Linked DNA regions of Homo sapiens: regions 2, 3, 4, 5, 6 and 7 are each linked to region 1. The links come from fine-mapping of genetic effects on gene expression. A gene starts in region 1. Each other region holds a variant in brackets. All regions are shown on one strand. Distances are from middle to middle.

Region 1 (4,529 bases):
GTCCCACAACAACCAACTGGACTAGTGACAGCGTCCCCCTCTTTAAGTCACATATGACTGTAATGAATGGGTGAGAGTGCAGGGGAGCCTCTGGAATGCTGGGGATGGTCTTCCTTTGATGTGAGTGGTGTTCCATCTACAGGAGAGTGTCCATATGCAAAAATCCTTCAAGCTGTACATACAGCTGGCTCCCCACCCAGATTCCTTAACCAGGCCAGGGCACCCATGCCCCAGCTGCTGCCAGTTCCTACTAAGGGCTCTTTACTGCCACTCTCTCCCAGAAGAATGGCCCTCGGCTCAGGGTTAGCAGTGCCACACTCCCACCCTCATCCCGGAGGGGCAGCAGCCTGCAGCCACCAACCCCTCTGCCGCAATTAGGGCCAATTGTAGCATGCTCCTGGTGAGATGGGGTTAACGCTAGCCTCCAGCTGAGACGCCTTTTCCTTCCCTACCCAGCTTCCCTCTCGCCCTTCCTCCTCAATTTCACTTGCACAAGGATCTCTTTAGTGTTTGTGAACCTGACTGTATCTTAAGTTATACCTCAATAAAAAGAGTTTTGTTTTTAAAGGGGTGATTCTTTTACACAGCTCGTGCTATCTTCCCTTGAGATTCTGATCAACAGTTAAGAAATCTCACTCCCTCAGAGCAGAGATGCACTCCTTGGTGAAAAGGGACCAACATCCGTGGCCCGTGGGGTGTTCCTGCCTGCAACAGAGGCCGCGCGGCGCTGTGTAAATGGCATGGAGTCTCAGATGGTCTGCCACTAGCTTGCTGTGTGAATGGGCACTCCTTCAAATGTTCTGCAGCTCACCTTCCGAACTTGTAAGCAAGGCGATTTGGCCCTGAGATTCTCTGAAGTCTCTCCTAACTGTAGAAATCCTTTGATCTCATAAAACATTTTCATTAACGTGGAAGACCCTAAGTGCTACCACGACCACCCTTAACTGCACAGTACTTAGTTCTGGAGCACAAGTGACTTCCAAGCAATCACCATCACACGAACCTCAAAGCTGAAAAATTATCAGCACACTTCTCTCCCAACTCTTTACCCAGGTTCCCTTCTAACCTCAGAAACCACCAAACACAGCCCCACAGCACAATCTTAATAACAGCAGTTCCTCCTTGGCCTGCCAGCACCCACTCTGCGTTATGTGCCTACCTGGTGGTTGTGATATACAGAATATACTGATAGACAAGAAAAACTAGGTGAAGCATTTTAAAGAACATTTCAGAAATGATGGGAAGGGGTGGGAAGGGAGGGGCGGGAACAAGACCACACAGTGTTCAACGACTTAGCGGTTCCAGTGAACCAACTGATGCCCGTCTTCAGGGACAGACAGCTAGAAATTCTAGACTAGAACAGAGGCGTCATGGTTTGCCTACCCTTATCCTAAACAATTACCATGCGAACAACTTAATGTCGATCACAACAGATGTAAGTCCGGAGTCTCTCCACAGTTTCCAGGAGGCTGGTGGCAAATAATTGCCCTCGTCTTGGATTCAAACACGTGGCTATTCATGAGACGTTCTGCCTCTACTTTAGAGATTATCGACATCAGCAAATGCGTGCCGTTCACCTTCTACAACCGAAAACGCCCTTCAGGTGGCATTCGAAAAGCAGCCACTCCCTGATGCCATGCGGGAGCGAGCATGGAAAGCGCATTTCTGAAAGGAAACACCCAGAAAGGGTAAGTTCACCTTGGGTGGCACAAAGCGTGCCAGGGTTCACCGGCCTCCTGCATGGAAGGGAGCCACGGCCAGCGCGCCCGGGTCCCGAAGCGCAGTGGACAGGCAAGGCCCCCACGGGCGCGGCCTCGAGTTCCAGCCAGGGAGGCCCCGAGTCCAGTCCTAAGCCCCAGCCAGAGTCCTGGCCCCAAGTCTCGGCTCCGAGTCCAACCCCGAGTCCCGGCCGGAGCGGCCCCGAGATCCGGCGAGGAAGCCCCGAGTCCCCGCCAGGGAGGCCCCGAATCCAGCCCCAAGTCTCGGCCCCGAGTCCAGCCCCGAGTCCAGCCCCGAGTCCCAGCCCCGAGCCCCGGCCGCGCAGGCCCCGAGCCGAGGGCGCCCCGCCAGCCCGGCCCTCACCTTCCTGCTCGCGCCGCCAAGGGACACCTTGGGCCGCGTCTTGAAGTCGCCTTCGAAGCTGAACATCCTGGCAGCCTAGCCCATGTGCGGGCAGCGCCGCCGCGGAAGCAGCCGGGCGGGCGGGGCACGGGGCGGGCTGGGAGGCTCTCGGCGCCCGCCCGCCCGGCCCGGGGCAGCGAGGACGCGGCGGCCGGGAGGCGACCCGAGCCCGCCCCCGGGCTGTACCCTCCCAGCCCTGCCCTGGGGCGGGAGGGGCGGCAATACTGGAGGGGCGGCCCTGCCTCGCCTGCCCCTCATCCACGCCGGCCACAGCTCGGGCCGCTGCAGGGGCGCCCAGCGGGCAGCAAACCCGGCGCTTGCACCTGGAACTGCCGCCTCGGGAGGGAAGATGGCGGTCAGCCGTCAGTGCGTGCGCGGCCCTGCAGACGTGCGCGGCCCTGCAGACGTGCGCGGCCCTGCAGACGTGCGCGGCCCTGCAGACGTGCGCGGCCCTGCAGACGTGCGCGGCCCTGCAGACGTGCGCGGCCCTGCAGACGTGCGCGCCTCCGCCATTGACGGCACGGCGCTCTTCCCGGCGGTTCCGCTAGCGTGCGCGGCCCCGCAAGGCGCGCTGGAGCCTGGGGAGGACGGCGGTGACGCGGGCTGGGCACGCGGCGGAGTGGGCGGGGCCTGGTGCGTGCTGGGGGAGCGCGGCGAGGGGCGCGGGAGGTGTTGGGTGCGGGGCAGGGTGCGGGAAAGGTGGAGTGCGAGGCACGGGCCGGGATGGGGTGCAGGGCAGGGTGCGGGGTGCAGGGTGGGGTGCAGGGGCCGGCACCCGGAGCGGGCTGGGAGCGGCCAATCTGGTGCCAGACTCGAGTGAGGCGGGAAAGGAGCAGCTAGGCCCAGCCCGTCTGTTTACATCCCACCTGTTCTATGTCTATGACACGCACAGACGGACGTAAATATTTACCATGTACACAGACATGCGCAGATTTGCCTCATACATAGCACACATATGCATCTATAGATACAGCATCAATACATATAAATATGTATCATGTACACATACCTGTGTATGCAAAAATATTTGCTCCTGGACTTACCATGGGGCTTTGTCCTGATAAACCCATCGTAAGATGAAAATATTGTAAGTTGAAAATGTATTTAATGCTACAATAAACCCATCACAAAGTCAAAAAATTGTAAGTTGAGCCATTTTAAGTTGGGGACCACCTATACATAAACATGTGTCTTATATCCACACATACGTATACATAATATCTCATATACATGTGCATATACATATATATCATACACGATTGAAACCAATTTCTAAAAATTGATTTTTGGTTGTATACAAGGTGTGCAACATGATGATTTCATAGAGACATTGTGAAATGACTACCCTCTTTGTGTGTGTGTGGTAAGAGTACATAAAATCTACTCTCTTAGCAAAATTTCAACACACAATACGATATCATCTACAGTCGTCCTGCGGCCGAGCACGGTCGCTCACGCCGGTAATCCCAGCACTCTGGGAGGCCAAGGCGGGCGGATCACCTGAAGTGAAAAGTTCGAGACCAGCCTGGCCAACATGGTGAAACCCCATCTCTAATAAAATACAAAACTTAGGCCGGTGTGGTGGTGCACGCCTGTAGTCCAAGCTACTCTGGAGGCTAAGGCAGGAGAATTGCTTGAACCCAGGAGGCAGAGGTTGCAGTGAGCTGAGATCGTGTTATTGCACTCCGGCCTGGGCGACACAGAGACTCCGTCTCAAAAAAAAAAAAAAAAAAAGAAATACAGTCCTGGCGCCGCCTGTAATCCCAGCACTTTGGGAGGCTAAGGTGGGTGGATCACCTCAGGTCAGGAGTTTGAGACCAGCCTCGCCAACATGGGGAAACCCCGTCTCTACTAAAAGTACAAAAATTAGCTGAGCATGGTGGCATGTTTATGTATAGGTGGTCCCCCACTTAAAGTTCTTAAACTTCTAGCTGCTTGGGAGGCTGAGACAAGAGACTCGCTTGTGTCTGCGAGGCGGAGGTTGCAATGAGCTGAGATCGTGCCACTGTACTCCAGCCTGGGTGACAGAGTGAGACTCTGTCTCAAAAAATAAAAATAAACAGGCCGGGCGCGGTGGCTCACGCCTGTAATCCCAGCACTTTGGGAGGCCGAGGCGGGCAGATCACGAGGTCAGGAGATCGAGACCATCCTGGCTAACACAGTGAAACCCCGTCTCTACTAAAAATACCAAAAAAATTAGCCAGGCATAGTGGCAGGCGCCTGTAGTCCCAGCTACTTGGGAGGCTGAGGCAGGAGAATGGCGTGAACCCGGGAGGCGGAGCTTGCAGTGAGCCGAGATCGCGCCACTCGCGCCACTGCACTCCAGCCTGGGGAACAGAGGGAGACTCCGTCTCAAAATAAATAAATAAAAATAAAAATTAATAACAATAATAATAAACAGTCCTCCT
Region 2 (4,529 bases), 130 kb before region 1:
AAATAAATAAGCTCAGAATAGCTGAGAAAAAAACCACAAATAAGTGAATTGTCAATTTCTCTTCAGTCTCAGATATGCTATTTCCAAAATACTAATAAAATATACAAATTAACTAATAAGATATAGAACATTCAACATAAAACAACCTAAAATAAAAAAGACCAACCCTAATTATTTTATTTCTGTATATCAAGACTACAAATAGCATTTAAACGCTTAATTTATTATTCAAATTAAGAAATTATACATTTTGTTTTGATAATGTTCATTGTCTTAAAAGTGTCATTCAGCTTTCCCACTTTAAAAGTATATTGCTAATTATGGTCAATTAACTATGACAGCCCACAGAGCCTCCAGTGACAGTAAAATACGAGACATAGAAGAGATAAATGAGGATTTAGATCCCCTCCCCCCAGCATCAGCAAAGGGTCACTCTGCTCCCACAGCTGACGCTTTGAAACGCTTTCTGTTTGTAGAGACTAAAATCACCCAGCAACAGGTCAGGTCCTGATAAAGTGCCTACTGCAAGAACTACCGACACTCCTCTTCCCTGGATGTGCACCAGGGACTGTCCCGTCTTCGAGTCAGAGCAGCACCAGGAAGCAGAGGGTGCCAAGCATGGCGAGTCACCCCCAAATATCCAGGAAGACAAGTGGGCGCAGCCCAGGGGAAAGGAGGGCGAGCGGATGATGGGAGACCGGCACGGCTAGCATCGGGACAAAGATGCAGCCGCCACTTTGGTTCAAACAACTTTAATGACACCACAGTGTCTGTCCTCCCCCAAGTAACTGGGTATAGTGGGTGACAGATGTTGCAGTAGCTTGGCAGACCCTCCTCCTCCACCTCCCCTGAAAGCTCTCCAGGCACAAAGTGGAGATAGAAATAGGACAATGAATGAAGTCCCCACCTCACATCCACAGACAGTATCTCCAAACCATCATGAGGCAGGCCACGGTATACTGAAAACAAGCATGCTAGTCCCATTTGGGGAAATGGCTTAAAAAGCACAAATAAAATATTACCATCATCATCTCTTTTCCAAACCTAACCACTTTGGGAAAGGCAGCAGAAAAAAAAAATGCCTTCAGTTTTAATAATGAGGCTTGTAAACAATCCAACCACATAAGCAGCAGCGGCCCCATGGCGTCTCAGCCCTCAGACCCTGTATCTCTGCCGCCTGTGCAGCCCTGTCTGAACCCTGGAGTGGCGCTGCCTGCTCAGGAGGGCTCTGATCTCACCAGCAAAGCCAAAGCTTCATCTTTGGTTAATTTCACTGAGATGCCACTAGTGTAAAAACTGTGCTCTTCTTGGCAATATTACTAAAGTAGCCACATGGCACATAACGTGTTATTTTAAGTTATTTGAAAAGCAATGTCCATCTAAATAAGTGACCACACCGTAATAAAAATCATTTAAAAAAGGAAGGGAGGGAGGAATGGCAGAATGAAAGAAGGAGCTTAGGAGAGCCTCAGGCGTGCAGTGTGAGTATCCTCGTGGGTCTGGGGAGGCGCTGCTGACGAAGGAAGCACTGGTTCTCTGTAGGGGTCTGACCCCAGCATCAGCTTCAGCTCAGCTCAAAGCCAGCGGCACATTCAATCGCATAGAGAAGTTTACTTCGCAAAAGTGTCTCGTCATAGAACTCGGGGAGCTTCAGCAGGTTCATGCAGGTGCTGGCTGTGGGGAGCCGCTCAAGGTCGGAGCCTCCGTTGTGAATACAAAATGCGGGATACAACTCCTGAAAAACAGCATGTGTGCAAGATGTCACTGTAACAAGCATGGCATTACATGAGTTTTAATACAAAGTACACAAAATGTGCCTGCTCCAATCAGTAAAGTTACCATTGCAGTCACATTTTCCCGAAACCACATTTGCTTTGTTGTTGTTGTTTGTTTTCTTTGAGATGGAGTCTAGCTCTGTCGCCCAGGCTGGAGGGCAATGGCGCCATCTCAGCTCACTGCAACCTCTGCCTCCCAGGTTCAAGCGATTCTCCTGCCTCAGTCTCCCAAGTAGCTGGGATTACAGGTGCCTGCCACCA[T/C]GCCTGGCTAATTTTTGGATTTTTCCTAGATAAGGGGTTTCACCACGTTGGCCAGGATGGTCTTGAACTCCTGACTTTGTGATCTGCCCACCTCTGCCTCCCAAAGTGCTGGGATTACAGGCGTGAGCCACCGTGCCTGGCCCACATTTGCTTTTTTAAAAAATTACATTGATGGCTTAGTTCTAACTTACATAAAAGATTATGCACTGTGCTTCAGGCATAAAAAGGGATAAATAACATTCCAGGCCAGGCGCATAGCTCACACCTGTAGTCCCAGCACTTTGGGAGGCCTAGCTGGGGGATGGCTTGAGCTTAGGAGTTCGAGACCAGCCTGGGCAACATAACGAGACCTCATTTCCACTAAAAATAAAAATCAAAACAATTAGCCAGGTGTGGTGGTCTGCCCCTATACTCCCAGCTACTTGGGAGGCTGAGGTGAAAAGATGTCTTGAGCCCAGGAGGTCGAGGTTAGTGAGGTATGATCACACCACTGCACTCCAGCCTGGGCAACACACAGTGAGACCCTGTCTATAAAAATTTTTTAAAAAGGATCAAGATTTATTCTATCTTTCCTGTACAAGCTATTACTCGGGTTAACCAAATCATTGGTGAGAAGAAACAAAGCTGTTTTTAAATAGAAAATTCCAGCTAATAAATTATACAATTATGTAATTAGAACACGGCTGTTTTAGAAGCACATTAAACAATGGATCTAGGCAGTGATAAGTGACCACTAAAATCAAGAGGAATTCTGACGCAGAGATCGATCCCAGCATTGTGGGGAGATGACTCACGAGAAGTGGATCTCCACGATGATTAAGGGAATGGGAAGCATACGACATTACCTATGTGATGTTATTGCCAAAAAAAGAAAAATTCAAATTTAGAATCTGATGAGACCTCTATCAGTTTTCAAGAGATACAAAGAAGCAACCCAGTTACCCTATTATTTTTATTTATTTATTTTTTTGAGACGGAGTCTTGCTCTGTCACCCAGGCTGGAGTGCAGTGGTGCAATCTCGGCTTACTGCAACATCCGCCTCCCGGGTTCACGCCATTCTCCTGCCTCAGCCTCCCGCATAGCTTGGACTACAGGCTCCCGCCACCACGCCCGGCTAATTTTTTGTATTTTTAGTAGAGACGGGGTTTCACCATGTTAGCCAGGATGATCTCGATCTCCTGACCTCGTGATCCACCCGCCTCAGCCTCCCAAAGTGCTGGGATTACAGGCGTGAGCCACCGTGCCCGGCCCCAGTTCCCCTATTCATTAAATTACAAGACGAAATTGAGGGAGGTAGAACATCTATAGACCAAATGCATGATGAAAAGTGGCTTGCTTGTGCCAGAATTTAAATAATTGTTAACAAAAAAGAAAGATGATCAGGGAAATTTGAATATTGTTTTTCAGATGTGTTCATGACGTTCTGGTATTTAAAGGTACAGTGTGAAAATTCTCATCCCTGTATCACAGATACCCAGTTCCCATTCCCACTGGCAACCAACGCTTCAGCGTCTTAAGTGCTCCCAGAGATGAAATGCACGCATGAGAAAATGTTCTCCCTCCTTTAGGTTTAAAATTGAGACGGTGAGCACATTGGACACAGTATTCCGTGCCGTGCTTTTCTCATCTGATAATGGGTCTCGCTCATCTTGCCTATTAATGGTGAGGCTATATGGTGTTCCATGCACACGCGCGGCACGACGTGTTGCTGGGCACTTCTCTCAGCTTTTTACAAAAAATGATGCAATGAATACGTACCTGGTTTTCACAGTTGTGCAAATGTATCTGTAGGCAAAAACCGTGTTAGGGATTGCTCAACGCAGACTTAATGCATGAGACCTATGGGCGTGTCGGTCCTCTGATGGCCACGAAGAACCGGTGACTCCACCTTCCTCGTATACACAAACACCATTAGCTATTTGCCTCACATTTGAGATACGTGATTTATGTGTTCTCTTCCAACAGGAAGACAATAAGGCACAGATCGCCCTCAGTCTGCTCACTGTCGCAGCCTGTGCAGATTTAGTATCTGGCACGGGTTTCAGAGACCTAGCTAGGTCAGCCCTTCCCTGCACACGTGTACACGAAACTCTCTGAGAGGTGGGCCTGGCAGCAGGAGCAGGGGCTTCACCCACATTCACAACTCCTGGGACTGTACTCTAAGAAATAATTAGAGATGCACATGATAATTTATGCACAAGAGGTTCACAGCATCACAACGAAGGAAGAGCTGTAAACAACTAAAAAACAGAAAGTAAACTGGTAAATCACATGATGGGACACTACAAGCCCATTAAAAATATCTCAAAGAATAACATGAGGAAAAATGATCCTGATGTAATGTTGAGTGAAAAAGGTAGCCTAGAAAACTGAACACAAGATACAGCTAAAATTATATTTAAAAATTACGTGACCAGGAGCAGTGGCTCATGACTGTAATCCCAGCATTTTGGGAGGCCACAACGGGTGGATCACCTGAGGTCAGGATTTCT
Region 3 (4,529 bases), 100 kb before region 1:
CCTGTAACGAATTTTTCAACTGTCTGTCTTTTATGAATGTTTATAGCTAGAAATTGTGCCAAAATGATTTGAAATAAAAAGGATTAATTATAGTAGAAGCCTTTTAATATAAGTGAGTGCAGTCGCGACGCAATTAATGCAAATTGTGGCTCTATCAGAATAAATGTGAACCACATCACAGACCATTTCTGTTTGCCGCCAAATAACTTCAGTAATTTACTACATTAAGAATCAATAAAAAAATAATGCTTTTCAAATGCATCTCTATCAATCTTCAGGCAGCTCTAAAGTGAACATTTATAACTTAATCTAAAAACTATATAAGAGATGATGTCTTGCTTTAAAGCCATCCTAACTGAGCAAGCAGATAATTTTAATTATTTCATATCATATTAACCATATAATTTAAAAAACAAAAAAGAAACATAAAATAAGAATGTATACTAATAGCAACACGCTATTTAATAATTGTGCTTCAGAATTAGTAAGTTGGAATTGAAAAACAAAGTCCCTTCAGTCACTGGGACCACTAGGGGCTTGTGTAACTAACTCTAAACTCCTAGGGGGCAGGAGATATACCTCATCTTTCTTTCTTTTTTTTCGAGACGGAGTTTCACTCTATCGCCCAGGCTGGAGCGCAATGAATGGCACGATCTCAGCTCACTGCAACCTCCGCCTCCTGGGTTCAAGCGATTCTCCTGCCTCAGCCTCGCGAGCAGCTGGGATTACAAGTGCGCATACCATGCCCAGCAAATTTTTGTATTTTTAGTAGAGACAGGGTTTCCCCACGTTGGCCAGGATTGTCTTGAACTCCTGACCTCAGGTGATCACCCGCCTCGGCCTCCCAAAGTGCTGGGATTACAGGTGTGAGCCACCGCGCCTGGCAACATACCTCATCTTTAATGCAAGAGTCCAAATACAACATATGGTGCCCATTCATGTAACAAACATTTATTAAGTGCCAACTATATGTCAGGGACCACATTACATACTGGAATTCTGCATTCATGAATCTGTTTGCAAAAAAACCCTTTCATTCTTGTGTTAAGAGTTTTCGGATTGTGGGTTTCAGGTTATGTATACGTCAACACCCATTTCAAGTCCTAGATCTTCACAATCCTATTCCAGAGAGCTTTCTACACCATCAACTCCCGCAACACTTGGTCTACACAGCTACCCTGGCACTAAAAAATCCGTGTTGTCCCAGTGTCCCCTGCGCCTCACATGCAGGAACAGCAGCAGGAGGACACCAAGCTCCCTGGGAGGGGCCAGGCCGTGGGCCTCACTCTAATACTCCACTGGCAGGTGCCCTAAAGCCAATCTCTAAACGTGAGCTGAGGTGAACTCACTCCTCATTCAGCAGATGTCTACCACGGATAACTGAGCAGAGCCCACTAGCTGTTACTCAGAGAAAAAGAGCAACTCTGCCTTGCAAATCCTGAACCACCACACCAGGACACGGGTGCTGCACTCTTACTTCTCTACAGAGGCTGCCCAAATCCCCAGCATGCAGAGCTGCCGAGGCCTCACAGTGCTCGTACCTTTTCTTCCTTGAGACCCTGGCACTCCATAAAGACAAGGAAAGCCTGCAGAGATTGCCCTTCTCATCTCCAACTCGGCTTTCACTTCGGAAGCCCTGCAGGGCACAGAGGATGGGGGATGGGGACCGTGGAGGACACGTGCACATCTCCTGTCCTATTTTCCTCATAGTGGCTTCCAGCGATCGAGCCACAATATGATACATTTTGAGCAGCTTGGAGTTGACGCTTCCTTTTTTTTTTGAGATGGAGTTTCCCTCTTTCACCCAGGCTGGAGAGCAGTGGCACAATCTTGGCTCACCATAATCTCTGCCTTCCGGTTTCAAGCGATTTTCCTACCTCAGCCTCCCAAGTAGCTGGAATTAGAGGCAACCACCACCACGCCCAGCTTATTTTTGTATTTTGAGTAGAGACGGGGTTTCACCATGTTGGTCAGGCTGGTCTAGAACTCCTGACCTCGTGATTCTCCCGCCTTGGCCTCCCAAAGTGCTGGGATTACAGGCTTGAGCCACCAGACCTGGCTCGA[C/T]CCTTCCTTTTTTTCCTCGACTTCTAGTTCTATGGCTTCCAGGTTCAGGCTCCAAAACACAGAAACCCCTGACCCTGCTCACCAAAATATTTCTAGAAGATAAAAAACATCTTCATGAACAAGGAAGTTCGCTAAAGTAGCAAACCCATATTCCCACTTCCACTGACAAGAAGCAAACATCTGAGCATCTGAGGACAGTTTTACACTCCTGCTTCTGAAAGACAGTAGGAATTTAAAAAAAAAAAAAAAAAAAAAAACAACTCAGGCTCAGTCTCAAGGTACCCCACATAACCAAGAACTATTTTCAACAATTAGAAGAAAACATCTTTCAAGTTTCAAAATTCTACTTTTGCCATATAGGAGAATAAAATATCAGACTAGAAATCTGTCGAGCCACCTCTTGAGAAATTTGAGGACAATGATGCCTTCGATGATAACAGATTTCGTTACCATCAGGTACTATGTTTCCCTAACAACAGCTCATGCTCTAATCACTATACTCCTTCCAGCTTTAGAACGAAAGCATCCATGAACTCCGATTGATACTGACTGCTGCTTTCTCTAACTTCTGTGACACTGGCTCTCTCAGTCACCACGTTACCTACCGCACGATTCCTTTGTAACAGCTTTACTGGGATATCACCCACATAACTTACATTCAAAGGTTTTATTATATTCGTAAAGTTGTATGACCATCGCCACAATCAATTTCTGAAGATTTTCATTATTCTAAAAAGAAACTCCACATCCCTCAGCTGCCACTCCTGGTTCCTCCCAGCCCTGGCGATCACTCACCCACCTTCTGTCTCTAGATTTTCCTGTTTTGGACATTTCATATAAATGGAACCATGTCTTTGGTGATCTCTGCATCTGCTCTCACCGGGCAGAACATTCTCAAGGCACATCCATGTGTGCCATGTGTCAGTGCTTTACCCCTTTTTACGGCCCAGTAATAGTCCACTGTATGGATGAACCGTATTCTGTTTACCCGTTTGTCAGCTGATGGGCCTTTGAGTCATTTCCATCTTTTAGCTATTAGGAATAATGCTGTTGTGAGAATTTGTGTGCAAGTTTTTGGGTAAATATGTTTGCTGGGTCCAAAGGTAATTAACCTTTTGAGGAACTGCTAAACTTTTCCAAAGTGGCTGCACCATTTTATCTTCCCATTGGCAATGCATGAGGACTGATTCCTCCACATCCTCACCAACCCTGCGGTTCCTGGTTTGATTCCCGCCGTACTCGCGGGTGTGCGCGGCAGCCTGTGGCTATGCTTTGCCCTTCCTTGATGACTAGTGATGCTGGCCATCTTTGCACGAACCAATGGCCCATTTGCTTGCTGCCAGTCCCTGGAGAGATGTCCAATTGGATCCTTCGCCCATTTTTATCATGGAGTCCTTCATATATATGCCACAAGTATCTTCTCTTTCAGTGTGTTGTATTTTCAGTTTCTTGATGGTGTCTTTTGAAGCATAAACATTTTTAAGTCCAGTTCATTTTTCCTTTTGTTTTTTGTGCTCCTGGTCTCACAGCTAAGACGGGATTTTTTCCTGACTATGCTGCGACACTCAGCAGTCCATTTTCCCACATGCCCTGCAGCGCTCTGTGATCCTCAGAGCACTCTGCGTGAGTAGCTGTGGTCTCTTTTGCACCCTTGAACCACCGGGCACAGAAGGGAGGTAGGCCCCCTGTGCTCCTTACTGCCACTTCCAGACCATCCTTCCCTTCCCTCCCGCTAAAATCCCTGGCTTTCAATCTCATGCACTGGGCTTGCGCATCCATTACCTCTCCCGGGTTCAGTCACTGCCCCTTAATTCAAGATTTTAGCTCCTGAGAGTCCAACACACTCTGGTGATAATTTTTGGTGACATCTGTAGCACACAGTTGACTGTCATTCTACCATCCTGGCTGTCCCTCAACTCCACCTTAGCTACCAGTTCCTTCAGCTCTGTCCTCCAAGTGGCATTACCGGTAACTAAGCCCCTCTGATCTTAGCTCTAACCACCGCTACACTGACTCCCTGAAGGACCTCGACTCCACAGGTCTCCTCTCCTGTCCAGCTTCCCTTGCCCTCAAATCTCCATTCACGGATTAATTTCCTCTCTAAACAGCCTAGATTCAAAGGCAGGCTCTTGTAACCACTCTGAACTTGCAACCAATTCACCCTTTATTATAGTCACTTGGCAAAAAACCCCACCCCTGGTTAAATCTGACTCTACATCCTAGTCAGACCCACACAGCCGTTTACGGGTGTAGAAAAAGTAACCCACACGGCTGGTCTCACTTCACTTTATGATATTAACGTCAAGTGGGCCCTACACTAACTGGCAATCCTATTGTATTTCCATTGTCCAGTAATTCTCAAATTTCAGCATGCATCAGAGTCACACTTATTAATTGAAGCCTATTCACAGCTTGCTGGCCGGGTGCTATGGCTCACACCCATAATCCCAGCACTTTGGGAGGCT
Region 4 (4,529 bases), 80 kb before region 1:
CCCTGTCTCCAAAAAAACAAAAAACAACCAAGAAAACACAACAAAAAAACAAATTCATGAAAAAGATGCTGAATATCATTAGTCGGCTGGTAGACACAAATTAAAACCACAAGAAGATACCATTTCCCACCTTTTACAATGGCCAAATTTTTTTTTTTTAGACAGTCTTATACTGTCACCCAGGCTGGAGTGCAGTGGTGTGATCTTGGTTCACTGCAACCTCCACCTCCTGGGTTCAAGCGATTCTCCTGCCTCAGCCTCCCAAGTAGCTGAGATTACAGGTGCCCGCCACTACGCTCAGCTAGTTTTTTGTATTTTTAGTAGAGACGGGGTTTCACTATGTTGGTCAGGCTGGTCTTGAACTCCTGACCTGATGATCCGCCCACCTCGGCCTCCTAAAGTGCTGGGGATTACAGGCGAGAGCCACCACGCCTGGCCCATAGAATTTTTTTTTTTTAAATGACAACTGTAAGTGCTGATGAGGACTGGGAACAACAGAGGCTCTCATTCATTGCTGGTCTGAATGCAAAGCCGTGCAGCCACCCTGGAACACAGTTCTGCAGCTTCTCATCAAGTTAAACATAAACTTGCCAAATGTCTCAGGATTCTTACTCCCAGTGAAACTTACTCCATGTCAAACAAAATGTATGTTCACAGAAAAACCTGTACATAGATGTTTATAGCAGCTGTACTCGTATTCCCAGAGACAGAAAAAATAACCAAATGTCTTTCAACCAATGAATGGATTCACAAACTGTGGTGCATCCCCACACTGGAATACTGCTGAGCAACAGAGGGAACAATCAACCCACACAGCACCCTCAAATGCAGCGTGCTGACCAAAAGGAGCCAGGAGCAGACTACACAGCATGGTTCCCTTTGGAGGCCTTTTGCAAAAGGCAAAGTGACAGGACAAAACAGAAATGGGTGGCTGCTGAAGAGGTGGCCGCAATGGAGCTAGAGGCAATTTTGTGGGTGATGAAACTTTTCTACATGGTAGCTCCTGCTGGGAGTGACATGGCTGTATAAGTTTATGAAAAATAACAGATCTGTAGATTAAAGGAGTGAATTTGACAGCATGTAATTCATACCTCAGTAACCCTGTGTCCTAGAGAACTCACCGTCCAGGGTGGACTGCAGCGGGCCTATCCTCCCCATCCGCCGGAACCTCCACACATGTCTGGATGCTGGCACATAGAGCTGAGTGACCTGTCGGGGGCAATCCTGGTTCAGAACTCCCCTGTGCTCTAGCACACACTTTGACCTGATCACACTTGAACAGAATTGGTGCTGGACATTTCTCTACCGTGGGCTGGGCCCTCTCTCTGACCTCATACCTTCATGTCCCCTTTTGCTTTACCTTTTCAGGTCCTCTCTCATGCTAGCTGTCCTTTCATACTTTTACAGTTAACTATGTTTTCTAATATGCCCCAAAGAAATCTCTAATTGTTTTATTTGATGGTGCATAATATCTAAACATAGTAAAATAATATAATTGCTTTATGAAGCAAAATAGATCACTTTAAAAATTAAGTTATTATTATCAAAAATTCACTTTCTAGTTTTTTTTTCAATTTGGTTGAGGCAGTATTCAAATAAAACAGACACAGTATATTTTCTCAAGTTATTTTTCATCTGTCAGTTCCTCTCATCCCTTATTTTTGGTCCTTACAATTTTTTATTTTTTGATACACGGTCTCACTCTGTCACCCAGGCTGGAATGCAGTGGTGCGACCTCAGCCCACTGCGACCTCCACCTTCTGGTTTCAAGCGATCCTCCCACCTCAGCCTCCTGAGTAGCTGGGACTACAGGTGTATACCATCACGCCTGGTTAATTTTTGTACTTTTTGTAGAGATGGGGTTTTGCTATCTTGCCCAGACTGGTCTTGAACTCCTGAGCTTAAGCAAGCCACCTGCCTCAGCATCCCAAAGTGCCCGGGTCACAGGCGTGAGCCACCACACCCGGCTGGCCCTTGCAATTTTTTTTTTTTTTTTAGATGGAGTCTCATTCACTCTGTTACCCAGGATAAAGTGCAGTGGCCTGATCTTGGCTCACTGCAACCTCTGCCTCCCAGGTTCAAGGGATTCTCCTGCCTCAGGCTCCCAAGTAGCTGGGATTACAGGCACATGCCACTATGCCTGGCTAACTTTTGTATTTTTAGCAGAGATGGGGTTTCACCATGTTGGCCAGGGTGGTCTCGAACTGACCTCAGGTGATCCACATACTTCGGTCTCCCAAAGTGCTGGGATTACAGATGTGAGCCTCCGTGCCCAGCCACCCTTGCAATTTTTAATGAAGAAACTTTCATCCTGTAAAATTTCCCATAATCTAGATTTTGCTAATTGCACCCTCATGGTGTTGTTAAAGATGTACTTCTAACCCCTATGTTTCCTGTAATTTTGTAGTTAGATGTAGAGGTTCCACCACATTTAGATTTAACTTTCTGGCGAGAACGTTTCCTAGGTGGTGTGGGATGCTCGATCACTGAGAGGCCCCATCTCTGCTTTTCACTGCAGAAGTGAAACCTACTTCAAGTGTGGGTGTGTGCACCGTACTACCAGCTGGTGATGAGATAAGGGACTTGTGCCAAAATATAAATCAATTAAATCACTAAGCACACTGCTGGGTTCAGCTGACATTTTCCCATCGCACA[A/G]CTTTCTGGAGTAAGGAAGAGGTGCAGCTATTTGCATTCTGGGACCAGACCCTCCTCTCCTGGGAGGCCAACACACCATCTCAGACCAGCAGACCCTAGACATGCGCTGCACCTGGAGTGGCACCGCCCTGGTCATCTCCTTCACCAGAGCCTGCAACAGGCTGATTCTAGTTTGCAAAAATCCTTTTCATGTAGTATTGGCTGGAATACTTCTATGCAAAAGATCACACACTATCTGTTTTGCCTGAGGTACAGTTTATAAATGAAAGGTGGGTTAAATGCTTGAGTACTTCTTTTTTTCAAAACAGCATTCAAAATAATGAGATGGTTCCTTTGCATCCTACAAATATGATGACGAAGGGTTTTGTTAGCACCCTTGCGAACTCAGAGTTAGCTGTTTTCATGAATGCTTCAAGTTTCTGCCCATGACCAGCTAGAGACAGGCTCCTAACCCTGTCTCCCAGCCCCAGCCACCCTGCAATAGCTTCCTCGCTCTCCAGCATGACAGAGCACTCCACACCCATCTTGCAGGGTCTTCCCCAGACCTGGAGCCAAGCACCCTGCCAGGACTGCTTCTTTTGCTGTGAAGCAACCCCAGCCTGGGCCCCAGAACTGTTCACTGCTGGGGGATCTGCCACCATTGCTCTACCTTGTCAGTGGGCAGAGTTAGATGCAACAGGCTTAACTCACAAATATCTTATGAGGACATAGTCATGCTTATAAAATTGTTCTGAAACACTCCTGTTTTCTCTCCTCGAATATTTCTGTGACATGGTTTTTTTTTTTTATTTTTTGAGACGGAATCTTGCTCTGTCGCCCAGGCTGGAGTGCAGTGGCGTGATCTCAGCTTACTGCAACCTCCGCATCCCAGGTTCAAGCGATTCTCCTGCCTCAGCCTCAGTCCCAAGTAGCTGGGACTATAGGCGCACACCACCGTGCCTGGCTAATTTTTTTATTTTAGTAGAGACTGGGTTTGACCATGTTGCCCAGGCTGGTCGCAAACTCCTAAGCTCAGGCAATCCACTTGCCTTGGCCTCCCAAAGTGCTGGGATTACAGGCATGAGCCACCGCGCCCAGCCGACATGGTTTCTTTTATACCCTCCACCACTCCATCTCCTACTCCCAAGATTCTGAAATGAATCCAGTTACGACTTTTTCTCAAGAACTGAAAATACCTTATGTCCCTCTGTTAACATCACTTATATTTTTTGTTTTTTCTGGAGACAGAATCTCGCTCTGTCACCCAGGCTGCAGTGCAGTGGCACGATCTTGGCTCACTGCAACCTCCGCCTCCAGGGCACAAGGGATTCTCATACCTTAGCCTCCTGAGTAGCTGGGACTACAGGGGGACACTTACCATGCCCGGCTAATATTTGTATTTTCTTTCATTTTTCTTTCTTTTTTTGAGACGGAATTTCGCTCTTATCACCCAGGCTGGAGTGCAATGGCACAGTCTCAGCTCACTGCAACCTCTGTCTCCCAGGTTCAAGTGATTCTCCTGCCTTAGCCTCCCGAGTAGCTGGGATTACAGGCGTCTGCCACCACGCCCGGCTGATTTTTGTATTTTCAATAGAGATACAGGGTTTCGCCATGTTGGCCAGGCTGGTCTCAAACTCCTGGCTTTAAGTGATCTGCCCGTCGGCTTCCCCAAGTGCTGGGATTACAGGCGTGAGCCACCGCGCCTGGCCACTTAAATTTTTTACTAACGTATCATACTACTGAATCTGCTTTAGATGTAGGTATTAGTAATATTCAAATTTGTCTCTGTTCTTTTAGAAAATCAAGGATAAAGGACTGGTGTGGTGGCTTACGTCTGTAATCCCAGCACTTTGGGAGGCCAAGGTAGGAAGATCACTTCAGGCTGGGAGTTTGAG
Region 5 (4,529 bases), 140 kb before region 1:
ACCAGACCCTCCTTCCGCTCTACAGATCTCCTGAGCTCAATGGGTCCTCCTGCCTTGGCCTCCCAAAGTGTTGAGATTACAGGCGTGAGCCACTGTGCCCAGCTGCAATCTCCATTCTAAAGGAACAGGAGCTTCCACCCACACGAGGGTTCCCTGCTTCCCCTGGAGGGGGGGCGGGCATCTGAGTTGGATGGGAGCTGACAGCGTCAAGATGGGCCCAGGCTGCCCATCTGGGGGTGGCCTGGCTGTGGGGCTAGGGTGGTGGCCCTGGTGTGGTGCCCACCTGTGGGCCTGTCTGTCTGGGACAGAGCCTCTGACATCCCTGCAGATCCCTTGCACTGTCTGAGGGTGCGCCCCCACCCTAGGCTCTGCCCTTCCCTGAATGAGACTCCAGGCACCCACCTGAGGGTAAGCAGCTTCCCCAGGTGACCTAAGCCAGTGACAGCCCTCATTCAAGGGTCCCCTAAGGCAAGTGTTTTGTCCTTGTCTCCTGTCCCCAAAGGCTCCTGCACACTGGAAGCCCATGGCAGCTCAAGGGGTGACCTGGGGAGGGGGACACCATCGCCCCTCACCCTTTCAGGAGTAAATCAAGTCCCCATCCCCCTGTGAAAAGCAATTCCAGGCCCCTAGAAACCTCCTTGAAAAGAAGTCACTTCGGCTCAGTATGGTGGCTCACACCTGTCATCCCAACACTTTGGGAGGCCAAGGCGGGCAGATCACTTGAGGTCAGGAGTTCAAGACCAGCCTGGGCAACATGGTGAAACCCCGTCTCTACAAAAAATGCAAAAATTAGCTGGGCACGGTGACACGCACCTGTCATCCCAGCTATTCGGGGGGCGGAGACAGGAACATCGCTTGAGTCCAGGAGATGGAGGTTGCAGTGAGCCCAGATCGCACCACTGCACTCCAGACTGGGCGACAGAGGGAGACCCTGTGTCAAAAAATAAAACAAAATAAAAATAAAGGAGGTCACTTAACACATTCCTTGGGGGGCCACCAAGCACTGGGCAGAGCGAAAGTCCAGCGGTCTCGCTGCTCTGTATGTGGCAACCTGCACTCAACACTCATCACTAGAAAATGAAATGAAAAAACTCAGACACACAGCACAGATGCCCAGATCTTTTGATATTAGATTCAACAGACATGGAATTACTGAGCATGACAGACGCTCACTTTCCATTCTGTGCAGACGATGGCACAGATGGGCAGCCGGCCAAGGACTGCCCCCAGCAGCCCGGCAAGGGGAGGGGAGAGGAGACACAGCCTCTTCCTCAATGTGTGTGCCTTCCGGGGATCCAGGGCCCAGAGCCGGCCATGAGTGGCTGCAGGAGGTGGGGGGTGGGCAGCGCCTGCGAAGGAGCCCACACCCGGGGGAAGGACAGGCACCAGGAGGACACACGGGAGCCTGGCTGGAGGAACGGGAGCGCCGGTGTGGGGAGACGCAGAAAGGAGTTGCTCAGAAACTGAGGCCATTAGGACCATCCGAAGTCAACAGACTCTGCCCGGTTCTCCCCTGCTTGCCTCAGAGGCTGAGGCCCCAGACTGAACGGGGGACGGTCTCCCCAGTAGACAGGGGTGATTCCTGCAGTGGGTGATGCTGCCCCGTTAGACAAATGGTCCCCCCAGTAGACGGGGGATAGCCCTGAAGCAGGGAGTGGATGGCCCCACACTGCTACAGCGAAACAGTCCCCCCAGTAGACAGGGGAGGCTCCCTCCAGGGGGACTTCTCTCCTGTGAGTTTTCAGTGTTGACTTCATTGTATCCAGGAAGCAATGACCACATTCTGAGTGAATTTATCAGGCACTTCCTGCCTCATCAGTCCTTGTTGTGACCAGCCTTCCTTTCATGGTGTCTTAGGTGGCTGTCTTAGTAATGTTGGGACTCTGAAGATGGATCAAGGTGTCTTTCCTCCTTGAATGATAGTCCAAGATGTTGGATGGGTCTTAGGTGAGGAGCTGGCTGGGTGTCAGGGCACAGGGTGGTAAGGGTGGCTGGGAGTCCTGGCCTTGCCCTTGTCACCCCATTTAGGAGCCTCAGCAAGACCAGGCGGGGGCAATAGAGAGGGGGCAGGAGGCCTTGGACCTGGGCCTGTCTGTTCATCCCTTACTTGGTGCAGAACATCTGCTGGGGCCCCTCACATCTGTGGGGTCTGGATGTGAACATAATGTGTGAACCTTACCTGGCCGCGGGCACCACAGTCTGAGCTGCAGGTGACAGCCCCAGATGCGGCGGATCAGGAAACAGGTCCCACACTGGGGTCCCAGCTGGGCAGGTGGAGAACCGGCTC[C/T]CTCTGCCTGCCCCGCAGTGGCCAGGGCCTGTGCTCACACACACATCATTGCTGCACGGGGACTGTGCAAGGACGCCTTCTGCTGCAGAACAGGAAACTGCCCCCTGAATCTGCAGACCCTGGCAAGGCCCCTACGGCCACCGCGGTCAGCCCCGGAGAGAGGAGAGGGGCCTCGGTGGCAGCACAGGCCCACCAGGGTGTCCCTAGGGCTGAGGTCTCTGGTCCCAGGGGCCCCTGAGTAGGGGAGGGGGGCGAGGGTGCTGCAGGGAGGGGAGGCCCCTGCAGATCCATGTGGGCCCCACCTCAAAGGAAGGGATCCTTCGACTGGGGGTCCTGGGGGAAGATAAAGACCGCCCCAGGCCCATTCTTTCTGAACTGGAAGCCTCAGCAAAGGTAAGAATGAAATAAGGTAAATACACCCCCAAATTAGAAAATTCCAAGCTTCTTCAAATGGGTTTGACAGAATTTCCAACTCCAGTCTTTCCTCTGAACTAGGCAGTGTTCCCCAAAAATGTAACTCGGCCTGCTGGTGACCAGAAGCCTAACCAACTGGTGACATCAACAGTGGTTAGCACATGGTTTCTATGTTACGTATCATATGCTGTATTCTTACAATAAAGTGGGCTAGAGGAGGAAGGGCAGGCGGAAGGCGAGGTGAGAGGCTGGCCTCTCAATAGAGGGCAGCTTTCATGGAAAACCACCCATGTAGCCGGGCGCGGTGGCTCCCGCCTGTAATCCCAGCACTTTGGGAGGCCGAGACGGGTGGATCACAAGGTCAGGAGATCGAGACCATCCTGGCTAACACGGTGAAACCCCGTCTCTACTAAAAATACAAAAAAATTAGCCAGGCGTGGTGGTGGGCGCCTGCAGTCCCAGCTACTCGGGAGGCTGGGACTCCATCTCAAAAAAAAAAAAAAAAAAAAAAAGAAAAAGAAAAAAAAAGAAACCCACCCACGCTTTGGTGGACCTGCACAGCTCAGACCGTGTTACGCAAGGGCCAGCTGTGTACAGTTTCCTATTTCTAAGTATATTCACAAGATTGTGCAGCCACCACCACCAATTCCAGAACATTCTCGTCAGCCCCCAAAGAAGCCCTGTACCCATCAGCTGTCAGTGCCCGTCTCTTCCCTCCTAAGCCCTAACAAGCACCAGTCTGCACCCCGCCTCTGGGGATGTGCCTGTGCTGGACACTTCAGGTCAAGGAGTCACCCAGCATGTGTCCTTTTGTATCTAACGTCCCTGAGGCGCACCCATGCTGCTGTGTATCACACTTCCTTTTACTTACTATTATTATTATTTTTGAGACAGAGTCTCAATCTGTCGCCCAGGCTCGAGTGCAGTGGCGCAATCTCGGTTCACTGCAAGCTCCGCCTCCTGGGTTCACACCATTCTCCTGCCTCAGCCTCCTGAGTAGCTGGGGCTACAGGCGCCCGCCACCACGCCCGGCTAATTGTTTTTGTATTTTTAGTAGAGACGGGGTTTCACCGTGTTAGCCAGGATGGTCTTGATCTCCTGACCTCGTGATCTGCCCGCCTCGGCCTCCAAAAGTGCTGGGATTACAGGCGTGAGCCACCGCGCCTGGCCCACACTTCTTTTTACGACCAAGTCCTATTCCACTGCACAGAGGGACCACATAATGTTTATTCCTTCCTCAGCTGATGAACACTTGTGTGTTTCCATCCTTTGGCGATCGTGAATAAGGCAGCTATGAACATTTGTGTACAAGTCTGTGTGTGGACAAAGGTTTTCACTTTTCTTTGAGACAGAGTTTCACACTGTGGCCGGTTGGAGTGCAGTGGTGCCATTCATAGCTCACTGCAGCCTCGACCTCCTGGGTTCAAGCGATCCTCCTGCCTCTGCCTCCAGAGTAGCTGAGACCACAGGCGTGCACCAACCATGCCCTGCTAACCTTTTTATTTTTTGTAGAGATGGGGTTTTGCCATGTTGCCCAGGCTGGTCTCAAACTCCTGGCCTCAAGCGATCCACCTGCCTTGGCCTCCCAAAGTGCTGGGATTACAGACATGAGCTCGGGTGCCTGGCCAGGTTTCCCTTCTCTACTGTAAACCTAGTAGAAACTGCTGGCTTGCTGCTGTGTGTGTAACATTTGAGGAACTAAGGCAATGGGATGTTAAACTTTAACATTTCTGCTGGGCACAGTGGCTCACGCCTGTAATCCCAGCACTTCGGGAGGCCAAGGTGGGCGGATCGCCTGAGGTCAGGAGTTTGGGACCACCCTGGCCAA
Region 6 (4,529 bases), 70 kb after region 1:
TTACAAAAGCTACTCCATTAAAGTTGGAAGAAGTGGCTGTTCCACCAGATGTGCAGATATCAACATAGGGACACAAGAAACCTGAAAAAGCAAGGAAACAGAATATCTTCAAAGGAACACAATAATCCTCTAGTAACTGACTTCAAAGAAAAAGAAATCTATAAAATGCCTGGAAAGGAATTCAAAACAATCATCTTAAGGAAACTCAGCAAGATTTAACAGAACACGGATGATTCAACAGAAGCAGGAAAAGAATTCATAATTTGAATGAGAAATTTAACAAAAAGTTATCATGAAAAGGAATGAAATGGAACTCCTGGCACTGAAAGAAAAAATACAATTGAGGGCTTCAGCAATAGACTAGATCAAGAAGAAATAACTTCTGAACTTCAAGACAGATCTTTTGAAATAATCCAGTTAGATAAGAAAAAAGAATGAAAAAAACCTACAGGACATACGGGACACCATTAAGTGAAAAAGTGTTTCCATTATGGGAGTTCCACAGGAGAAGAGATAGGAAAAACAAATTAAATAATAACTGAAAATCTCCAAAATCATAGGAGAGGTATGGACATCCAAATACAGGAAATTCAAAATTTCCTATACAGGAAATTCAAAATTTTCTATACAGGTTCAACCCAAAAATGCCTTCTCCAAGCCTCACTATTATCTAACTGTCAAAAGTCAAAGACAGAGAAAAGACAATGCAAGGAAAAATGCATTAAGTCAGATATAAGGAAACCTCCATCAGACTAACAGCAGATTTCTCAGTAGCAGCCTTACAGGCCAGGTAAGAATGGGATGATTTATTCAAAGTGCTGAGTATATATTTTTAATATATATTGACAGCTTGGGTGCAGTGCCTCATGCCTATAATCCCAGCACTTTAGGAGGCTGAGGAGGGCAGATCACCCGAGGTCAGGAATTCGAGATCAGCCTGGCCACCATGGTGAAACACCAACTCTACCAAAAATACAAAAAATTAGCTGAGCGTGGTGGCATGTGCCTGTAGTCCCAGCTACTAGGGAGGCTGAGGCCAGAGAATTGCTTGAGCCTGGGAGGTGGAGGTTGCAGTGAGCCGAGATCGTGCCACTGCACTCCAGCTTGGGCAACAGAGTGAGACTCCATCTCAAATAAATAAATAAATAAATAAATAAATAAATAAATAAATACTGACAGATTAATATGTCAATTTCAATGACAATTATCAAAATTATCAGTTAAGAATACTATACCTAACAAATCTTAACTTTTTTTTTTTTTTTTTTTTTTTTTTGAGATGGAGTCTCACTCTATTGCCCAGGCTGGAGTGCTGTGGTGCAATCTTGGCTCATTGCAAGTGCTGCCTCCTGGGTTCACGCCATTCTCCTGCCTCAGCCTCCCGAGTAGCTGGGACTACAGGCGCCCACCACCACGCTCAGCTAATTTTTTGGATTTTTAGTAGAGATGGGGTTTCACCGTGTTAGCCAGGATGGTCTCGATCTCCTGACCTCATGATCCACCCGCCTCGGCCTCACGAAGTGCTGGGATTACAGGCGTGAGCCATCGCGCCCGGTCACAAATCTTAACTTTCAAAAACGAAAGAGAAAGTCTTCCCCAGATAAGCAAAAGCTGAGGGAATTCATCACCACTAGACTGATCCTACAATAAATGCTTAAGAGAGTCCTACATCTGGAAACACAAGGAAAATACCTACCATCATGAAAACATATAAAACTCACAAGTAAAGCAGATACACACGTGAGAAAGATAAAAGAATCAAATAATTTCACTACAGAAAAACATCAAATTGCAAAGATAACCAATAAGAGAGGAAAAAAGGAAGAAAAGTATACAAAACAACCAGGAAACAGTTGACAAAATGACAGGAGTAAGTCCTCATCTATCAATAACAACTTTAAATATAAACAATTTAAATCCCCCAAGTAAAAGATATAGATTGGGTGACGGATAGAAAAATAAGATTCAACTATAGCTGCCTACAAGAAACTCATTTCACCTGTAAAGACACA[T/C]ATGGACTGAAGGTGAAGGATGAAAAAATATATTCCATGCACACAAAAACTAAAAGCTAGCATGAATAGCTACACTTATTTTGGAAAAAATAGTCTTTAAGTAAAAAATGTAAAAAGAGACAAGGAAGGTCATTATACAATGATAAAGGGATTAATTCAGTAAAAGGATATAACAGTTATAAATATATATTTACACCTAACACCAGGGCACCCAGATATATAAAGCCAATATTATTAGCGCTAAAGGAAGAAATAGACCCCAATATAATAATAGTTGGGGATTTTAACACCCTACTATCACCATTGGTCAGATTGTGTAGACAGAAAGTCATCAAAGAAACATCAGAGTTAAACCCATTTAGACCAAATGGATCTAACAGACATTTACAGAACATTTCATCCAATAGCTGCAGAATACACATTCTTCTAATCAGCACATGGGACATTCTCCAGGATAGATTATATGATAGGCCACAAAACAAGTCTCAACAAATTTTTAAAAATCAAAACTGTATCAAGTATCTTTTCAGACACAATGGAATACAACTAGAAATCAGTAACAAAAGGATTTTTGGAAATGATACAAATATATGGAAATTAAATAACCTGCTCCTCAATGACCAATGCATCTATGATGAAATTAAGAAGAAAATTTAAAAATTCCTTAAAACAATGAAGATAGATACACAGCATACCAAATATGTACGGGATACAGAAAAAGCAATACTAAGAGGGAAGTTTATAGCAATAAATGCCTACATCAAAAATGGAGAAAGGTTTCAAATAAACAACCTAGCAATTCACCTTAAGGAACTAGAAAAACAAGAACAAATGAAACCCCAAATTAGTAGAAGGAAAGAAATAATTAAGATCAGAATAGGCTGGGCATGGTGGCTCACGCCTATAATCCAAGCACTTTGGGAGGCCAAGGTGGGTGGATCACCTGAAGGTGAGGAGTTCAAGACCAGCCTAGGCAACATAGAAAAACCCTGTCTCTACTAAAAATACAAAAATTAGCTGGGCATGGTGGTGGATGCCTGTACTCCCAGCTACATGGGAGACTGAGGCGGAGGTTGCAGTGAGCTGAGATAGTGCCATTGCACTCCAGCCTGGGCAACAGAGTGAGACTCTGTTTCCAAAAAAAAGATCAGAATAGAACTAAACAAAATAGAGACAAAAATACAAAATATCAATGAAATGAAAAGTTGGCTTTTTGAAAAGATAAACAAAATTGACAAGCTATTAGCTAGACAAACTAAGAAAAAAGAGAAGACAAACAAAATCAGAAACAAAAAAGGAGATATTACAACTGATATTACAGAAATGCTAAGAATTATTAGAGACTATTATGAATAACTATATGCCAACAAATGGGAAAACCTAGAGGAAAGGGATAAACTCCTGGACACATACAACCTACCAAGATTGAACCAGGAAGCAACAGAAAGCCTGAACAGATAAATAATGAGTATCATGATTGAATCAGTATTGAAAAGCCTCCCAATGACGACAACAACAAAAAGCCCGGGACTGGGTGGCTTCGCTGCTGAATTCTACCAATTTTTTTTTTTTTTTTCTGGGAGACAGGGACTCTCTCTGTTATTCAGGCTGGAGTGCAATGGCATGATCATAGCTCACTGAAGCCTCAAACCCCTGGGTCCAAGCATTCCTCCCACCTTAGCTTCCCAAGTAGCTGGAACTACAGGAGTGCACCACCACATCCAGCTAATTTTTTTAAATTATTTTTTTGTAGCCAGGCATGGTGGCTCACGCCTGTAATCCCAGTACTTTGGGAGGCTGAAGCGGGTGGATCACCTGAGGTCAGGAGTTTGAGACCAGCCTGACCAACATGGAGAAACCCCATCTCTACTAAAAATACAAAATTAGCCAGGTGTGGTGGCGGGCGCCTGTAATCCCAGCTACTCAGGAGGCTGAGGCAGGAGAATCACTTGAACTTGGGAGACAGAGGTTGCAGTAAGCAGAGATCGCGCCATTGCACTCCAGCCTGGGCAACAAGAGCAAAACTCCATCTCAAAAAAAAAAAAATGATTTTTTTTTAGAGACAGGGCCTCCCTGTGTTTCCCAGGTTGGTCTTGAACTCCTGACCTTAAGTAATCCTCTCATTTCGGCCTCCCAAACTGTTGGGATTACAGGCATGAGCCATCACACCAGCATATCAAACTTTTCTGGAAGAACTAACACCAATTTCTCAAACTACTCCAAAAAATTGAAGAGGAGGAAATTATTCCTGACTACCTCTACGAAGCTAGCATTATCCTGATACCAAAACCACACAAGGACACACCCTCAAAAAAGAAAACTATGGGCCAATATCCCTGACAAACATAGGTACAAAAATTTTCAACAAAATACTAGCAAACCAAACACAAAGATTATATTATGATTGAGTGGAATTTATCCCAGGAATGAAAGGATGGTTTGCCTCATCAACAAATGTGATACATCATGTTAACTGAATGAAGGACAAAAACCAAATGATCCTCTCCATAGACACAG
Region 7 (4,529 bases), 28 kb before region 1:
GGCAAAACACCGACTCTACTAACAATACAAAAATCAGCTGCACGTGGTGGCACATGCCTGTAATCCCAGCTACTCGGGAGGCTGAGGCAGTAGAATTGCTTGAACCCAGGAGGTAGAGGTTGCAGTGAGCCGAGATCATGCCACTGCACTCTGGCCTGGGCAACAGAGTGAGACTCAGTCTCAATTTAAAAAAAAAAAAAAAGGATCTCTCATGACTTCCTTCTATTTTGATTTTCAACTGTGGTGAGGCCCATGTTTGTATTTTATTATTTAAAAATTACCTAAAAACTCACCTATCTATAAATCTTCACAATAATTAGAACAAATAAAATTATTTATTGGGAAGAATACTACTGTCAGCATTGACTTCAATTAACAAGGTGTACAAAGATACCATATTTAAAATAAGCTCTCCCATGCCCTACTAATCTCCTCATTTTAAAACAAACTTACTTGCTGTTTTCTGTCTCTATAGCCTCGAATAAATGACTGGATAATTATTGCATTTTTCAACCTTCGCCTTTCTTCCTAAACAATAAAAGGAGGAGTGAGGGAGCAATTGGTCAGAATCCAGTGAAAATGACATTTTGCTAGTAAAGACTTTAAAAACACTAACAGCTATGTAATTCACATACCATAAAATTCATTCTTTAAAAGGTAACACCCACTAAATATGCATTTAATATATTAAGAGCTATGCAACCATCACCACTGATCTTAGAATACCTTCATCACCACAACCAGAAGCCCCGTCTCCATTCGCAGTCACCCCCCGTTTCCTGCCGTCCCTTCTCTTGCCCCTGGCAATCACTCATCTACTTCTATCTTATGGATGTGCTTATTCTGGACACTTCATATAATGGAATCATACAATATGCTGTGTCTGGTTTTCTTCACTTAGCATGATGTTTTCAAGATCCACCTATGTTACAGCATATGTGAGAACTTCATTCCTTTTTAAGGCTAAGTAAGAGTAATGTTCCATTGTATGGATGGACCACGTTGAATTCCTCCATTCATCTACTGATGGACATCTGGGCTGCTCCCACTTTGGTCTATTATGAATTAAGGCTGCTATGAACATTCATATATAAGTTTTGTTGTGGATACAGGTTTTCATTTCTCTTGAGCATAAACCTAGAAGTAGAGTTATCATTGAGGAATTGCCACACTGTTTTCCAAAATGGCAATACCATTTTACAATCTCACCAGCATAGTAGGACCTTTTTTTTTTTTTTTTTGAGACAGAGTCTTGCTCTGTCGCCCACTTGATCTCAGCTCACTGCAAGCTCCGCCTCCTGGGTTCACACCATTCTCCTGCCTCAGCCTCCCGAGTAGCTGGGACTACAGGTACCCGCCACCACACCTGGCTAATTTTTTGTATATTTAGTAGAGACGGGGTTTCACCATGTTAGCCAGGATGGTCTCGATCTCCTGACCTCATGATCCTCCAGCCCTGGCCTCCCAAAATGCTGAGATTACAGGCATGAGCCACCGTGCCCGGCTAGCAGGACTTTTTAAAGTTTTAAATATTAAAGGAATACAAGCAGACAACACCAGCATCTATTTTAAAGGTCACTTTCTTGTTTCAAGAGAAAATTCCAATTTTCATTGACTTGAGAGTATCTTTAAAATGTTCAGCGACCTGGCAAAAATATGCGTTCTTCATCATTGTTATGACCAGTGCTACTGCTGTTGGACAGCCTACTACTATGTGCCAGCCCTATGAGAGGCACTTTAGGCCAGGCATGGTGGCTCATGCCTGTAATCCCAGCACTTTGGGAGGCCGAGGCAGGAGGATCACAAGGTCAGGAGATCGAGACCATCCTGGTTAAAATGGTGAAACCATACCTCTTCTAAAAATACAAAAAATTAGCCGGGCATGGTGGCGGGTGCCTATAGTCCCAGCTACCAGGAGGCAGAGGCAGGAGAATGGCGTGAACCCGGGAGGTGGAGCTTGCAGTGAGCCGAGATCGCGCCACTGCATTCCAGCCTGGGTGACAGAGTGAGACTCCGTCTCAAAAAAAAAAAGAAAAGAGAGAGAGAGAGGCATTTTATATACAAATGCACAGTCATCTTACAGGTGAGCATCACTTCCAGTTTAAAGATGCAGAAACTGAGACTGCTATAAAAATTAAGCAACACCCAAAGATGTAAAGCAGAATTCAAACTCAGGTATGATAATAAAGCCTGTACTCCATCTCACCATACTACCTTGTTTCATGTCTTCTATGAATGCCATCTACAAAGCTGAGACTAACACACACACTGTGGGATTCAAGAACACCATCAGGTCATGTAGATGTAGTTCCTGGGCTTGAAATGGTTATAAAAAAATCCTGTGAGGTCGGGCATGGTGGCTCATGCCTGTAAACCCAGCACTGTGGGAGGCTGAGGTGGGCAGATCACTTGAGGTCAGGAGTCCCAGACCAGCCTGGCCAACATGGTGAAACTCCATCTCTACTAAAAATACAAAAAATTAGCTGGGCATGGTGGTGCACGCCTGTAATCCCAGCTACTTGGGAGGCTGAGGCAGGAGAATCACTTGAAGCCAGGAGGTGGAGGTTGCAGTGAGCTGAGATCATGTCACTGCACTCCAGCCTGGGTGACAGAGCAAGACTTTGTCTCAAAAAC[C/AACC]ACCACCACCACCACCACCACCACCACCAACAGGAAAAAGCGACTTTCACCAGATGCACATGGCAATGTAAGGATGCTGGAAACATGAAAAAACAAGGAAATACGACATCTCCAAAGGAATACAATAATTCTCCAACAATAGATTTTAATCAAATAGAAATTTTGAAAATCTCAAATAATTCAAAATATTGATTTTTTTTTTTTTTTTTGAGACGGAGTTTCACTCCAGGCTGGAGTGCAACAGCGTGATCTCAGCTCACCACAACCTCCGCCTCCCGAGTTCAAGCAATTCTCCTGCCTCAGGCTCCCGAGGAGCTGGGATTACAGGCATGCGCCAGCATGCCTGGGTAATTTTGTATTTTTAGTAGAGATGGGGTTTCTTCATGTTGGTCAGGCTGGTCTCGAACTCCCAACCTCAGGTGATCGGCCTGCCTCGGCCTCCCAAAGTGCTGAGAATACAGGCGTGAGCCATCGCGCCCAGCCCTCAAAATATTGATTTTAAAGCTCAGTGAGATACAAGGGAATTCTGAAAAATACAAAGAAGTCAGAAAAATAATTCAGGATATAAGTGAGCAACTTACCAAAGAGTAAGTATTTTTAAAAAGAATCAACTAGAAATTCTGGAAGTGAAGAATTCATTTAAAGAAATACAAAATACATTTGAAAGCTTCAAGACAGACTAATCAGGCAAAAGAAAGCATCTCAGAACTTGAAGACAGGTCTTTTGAAATAATCCAGCCAGACAAAAATACAGAAAAAAGAATGAGCAAAGCATTCATGACATTTGGGATAACATAAAGCAATAAAATATTCAAAGTATTGGTAACACCAAGGTCAAAGAGTCAAAGAAAGGATTAGGAAACCTATTTAATGAAATAATAGATGAAAACTTCCTGTCTCACAAGAGATTTAGACACCTACATACAGCAGACTCAACGATCTCCAAGCAAATAATCAGACTATCTAAAGTCAAAGATAAAGACTGAATTCTAAAAGCATCAAAAGAAAAGCAGCTAGTCACCTATAAAGGAAACCCCATCAGATTAAAAATCAAGAAGACAAACAATAGAAACAAACCCCACGGAAGATCCAATTACTGGAGTTTAAACATTGTCTTAAAAAATCTATAATTATGTTCAAGAAATTAAAAGAGAACTAAAGACTATATAAAAGAATGAAAGAAAATTCTAGAACTGAAATAACAAAAACTGAAATTACGAAGTCAATGGATGTATTTAACAATTAGGCAGCAGGGTGGCTCACGCCTGTAATCCCAGCACTTTGGGAAGCTGAGACAGGCAGATCACTTGAGGTTAGGAGTTCAAGACTAGCCTGCCCAACATGGCAAAACCCCATCTCTACTAAAAATACAAAAAATTAGCTGGGTGCGGTGGCGTGCACCTGTAGTCCCAGCTACTCGGGAGGCTGAGGCAGGAGAATCGCTTGAACCTGGAAGGCGGAGGTTGCAGTGAGCTGAGATCGTGCCACTGCAGTCCAGCCCGGTTGACAAAGTGAGACTCCACCTCAAAAAAAAAAAAAAAAAAGTCAATGCTAAAGAGATCAGCTGTAAATCAGAAATTAGGTCAGGTGAAAATATCCAAACTGAAGCAGAGATATTCAAAAGGATAAACACAGAGAAAAGCACATGAGGGAAATATGGGAAACGACGCAAAGGTCAAAAACATTTACAGTTTGCGTCCAAGTAGGAGAGGAGGAGAAGAATGAAGCAAAAGCACTAATGGAAGAGATAATGGCCGAGAATTTTCCATAAAACAAGATTAAAAACACCAACCAACAAATATCTTTCTTGGTTGAGCAGTGCCCTCCCTGGGACATTTGGTAGTTTCTGGTGACATTTTTGGTTGTCACAACTGAGGTAACGGAGTGCTACTGGC

Direction of the effects. Alleles are on the strand shown, and positions count from the first base shown. SD is a standard deviation of normalised expression in the study named. Not every link is listed here.
For the expression in testis of the gene that starts at base 2,495 in region 1, T is the high allele of the variant in region 2 and C is the other (small effect, 0.24 SD a copy in GTEx).

Evidence for each region.
Region 2: its variant is fine-mapped to the expression of UBE3C in testis (GTEx, PIP 0.96).
Region 3: its variant is fine-mapped to the expression of UBE3C in whole blood (TOPMed, PIP above 0.99).
Region 4: its variant is fine-mapped to the expression of UBE3C in whole blood (TOPMed, PIP above 0.99).
Region 5: its variant is fine-mapped to the expression of UBE3C in whole blood (INTERVAL, PIP 0.90).
Region 6: its variant is fine-mapped to the expression of UBE3C in whole blood (INTERVAL, PIP above 0.99).
Region 7: its variant is fine-mapped to the expression of UBE3C in whole blood (INTERVAL, PIP above 0.99).

Annotation. Positions count from the first base shown.
Region 1 is chr7:157,136,892-157,141,420 of GRCh38, reverse strand. UBE3C (ubiquitin protein ligase E3C) reads right to left here and starts at 2,495. Exons shown (of 23, transcript NM_014671.3): 1 at 2,083-2,495. The coding sequence starts at 2,148. RefSeq lists silencers at 1,864-1,933, 1,984-2,373, 2,654-3,003.
Region 2 is chr7:157,264,791-157,269,319 of GRCh38, reverse strand. It overlaps UBE3C (ubiquitin protein ligase E3C), which reads right to left. Exons shown (of 23, transcript NM_014671.3): 23 at 1-1,735. The coding sequence ends at 1,565. Among named protein-coding and RNA genes, the nearest start is that of DNAJB6, 70 kb to the left of the region's middle. The variant T/C (reference allele first, on the strand shown) is at 2,037.
Region 3 is chr7:157,240,307-157,244,835 of GRCh38, reverse strand. The region is part of intron 18 of UBE3C (ubiquitin protein ligase E3C); the gene reads right to left. Among named protein-coding and RNA genes, the nearest start is that of DNAJB6, 94 kb to the left of the region's middle. The variant C/T (reference allele first, on the strand shown) is at 2,065.
Region 4 is chr7:157,217,369-157,221,897 of GRCh38, reverse strand. It overlaps UBE3C (ubiquitin protein ligase E3C), which reads right to left. Exons shown (of 23, transcript NM_014671.3): 15 at 1,122-1,209. Among named protein-coding and RNA genes, the nearest start is that of UBE3C, 81 kb to the right of the region's middle. The variant A/G (reference allele first, on the strand shown) is at 2,656.
Region 5 is chr7:157,274,104-157,278,632 of GRCh38, reverse strand. No RefSeq gene overlaps it. Among named protein-coding and RNA genes, the nearest start is that of DNAJB6, 61 kb to the left of the region's middle. The variant C/T (reference allele first, on the strand shown) is at 2,288.
Region 6 is chr7:157,067,369-157,071,897 of GRCh38, reverse strand. No RefSeq gene overlaps it. Among named protein-coding and RNA genes, the nearest start is that of MNX1-AS1, 59 kb to the right of the region's middle. The variant T/C (reference allele first, on the strand shown) is at 2,013.
Region 7 is chr7:157,165,047-157,169,575 of GRCh38, reverse strand. UBE3C (ubiquitin protein ligase E3C) reads right to left here. Exons shown (of 23, transcript NM_014671.3): 3 at 454-528. Among named protein-coding and RNA genes, the nearest start is that of UBE3C, 28 kb to the right of the region's middle. The variant C/AACC (reference allele first, on the strand shown) is at 2,635.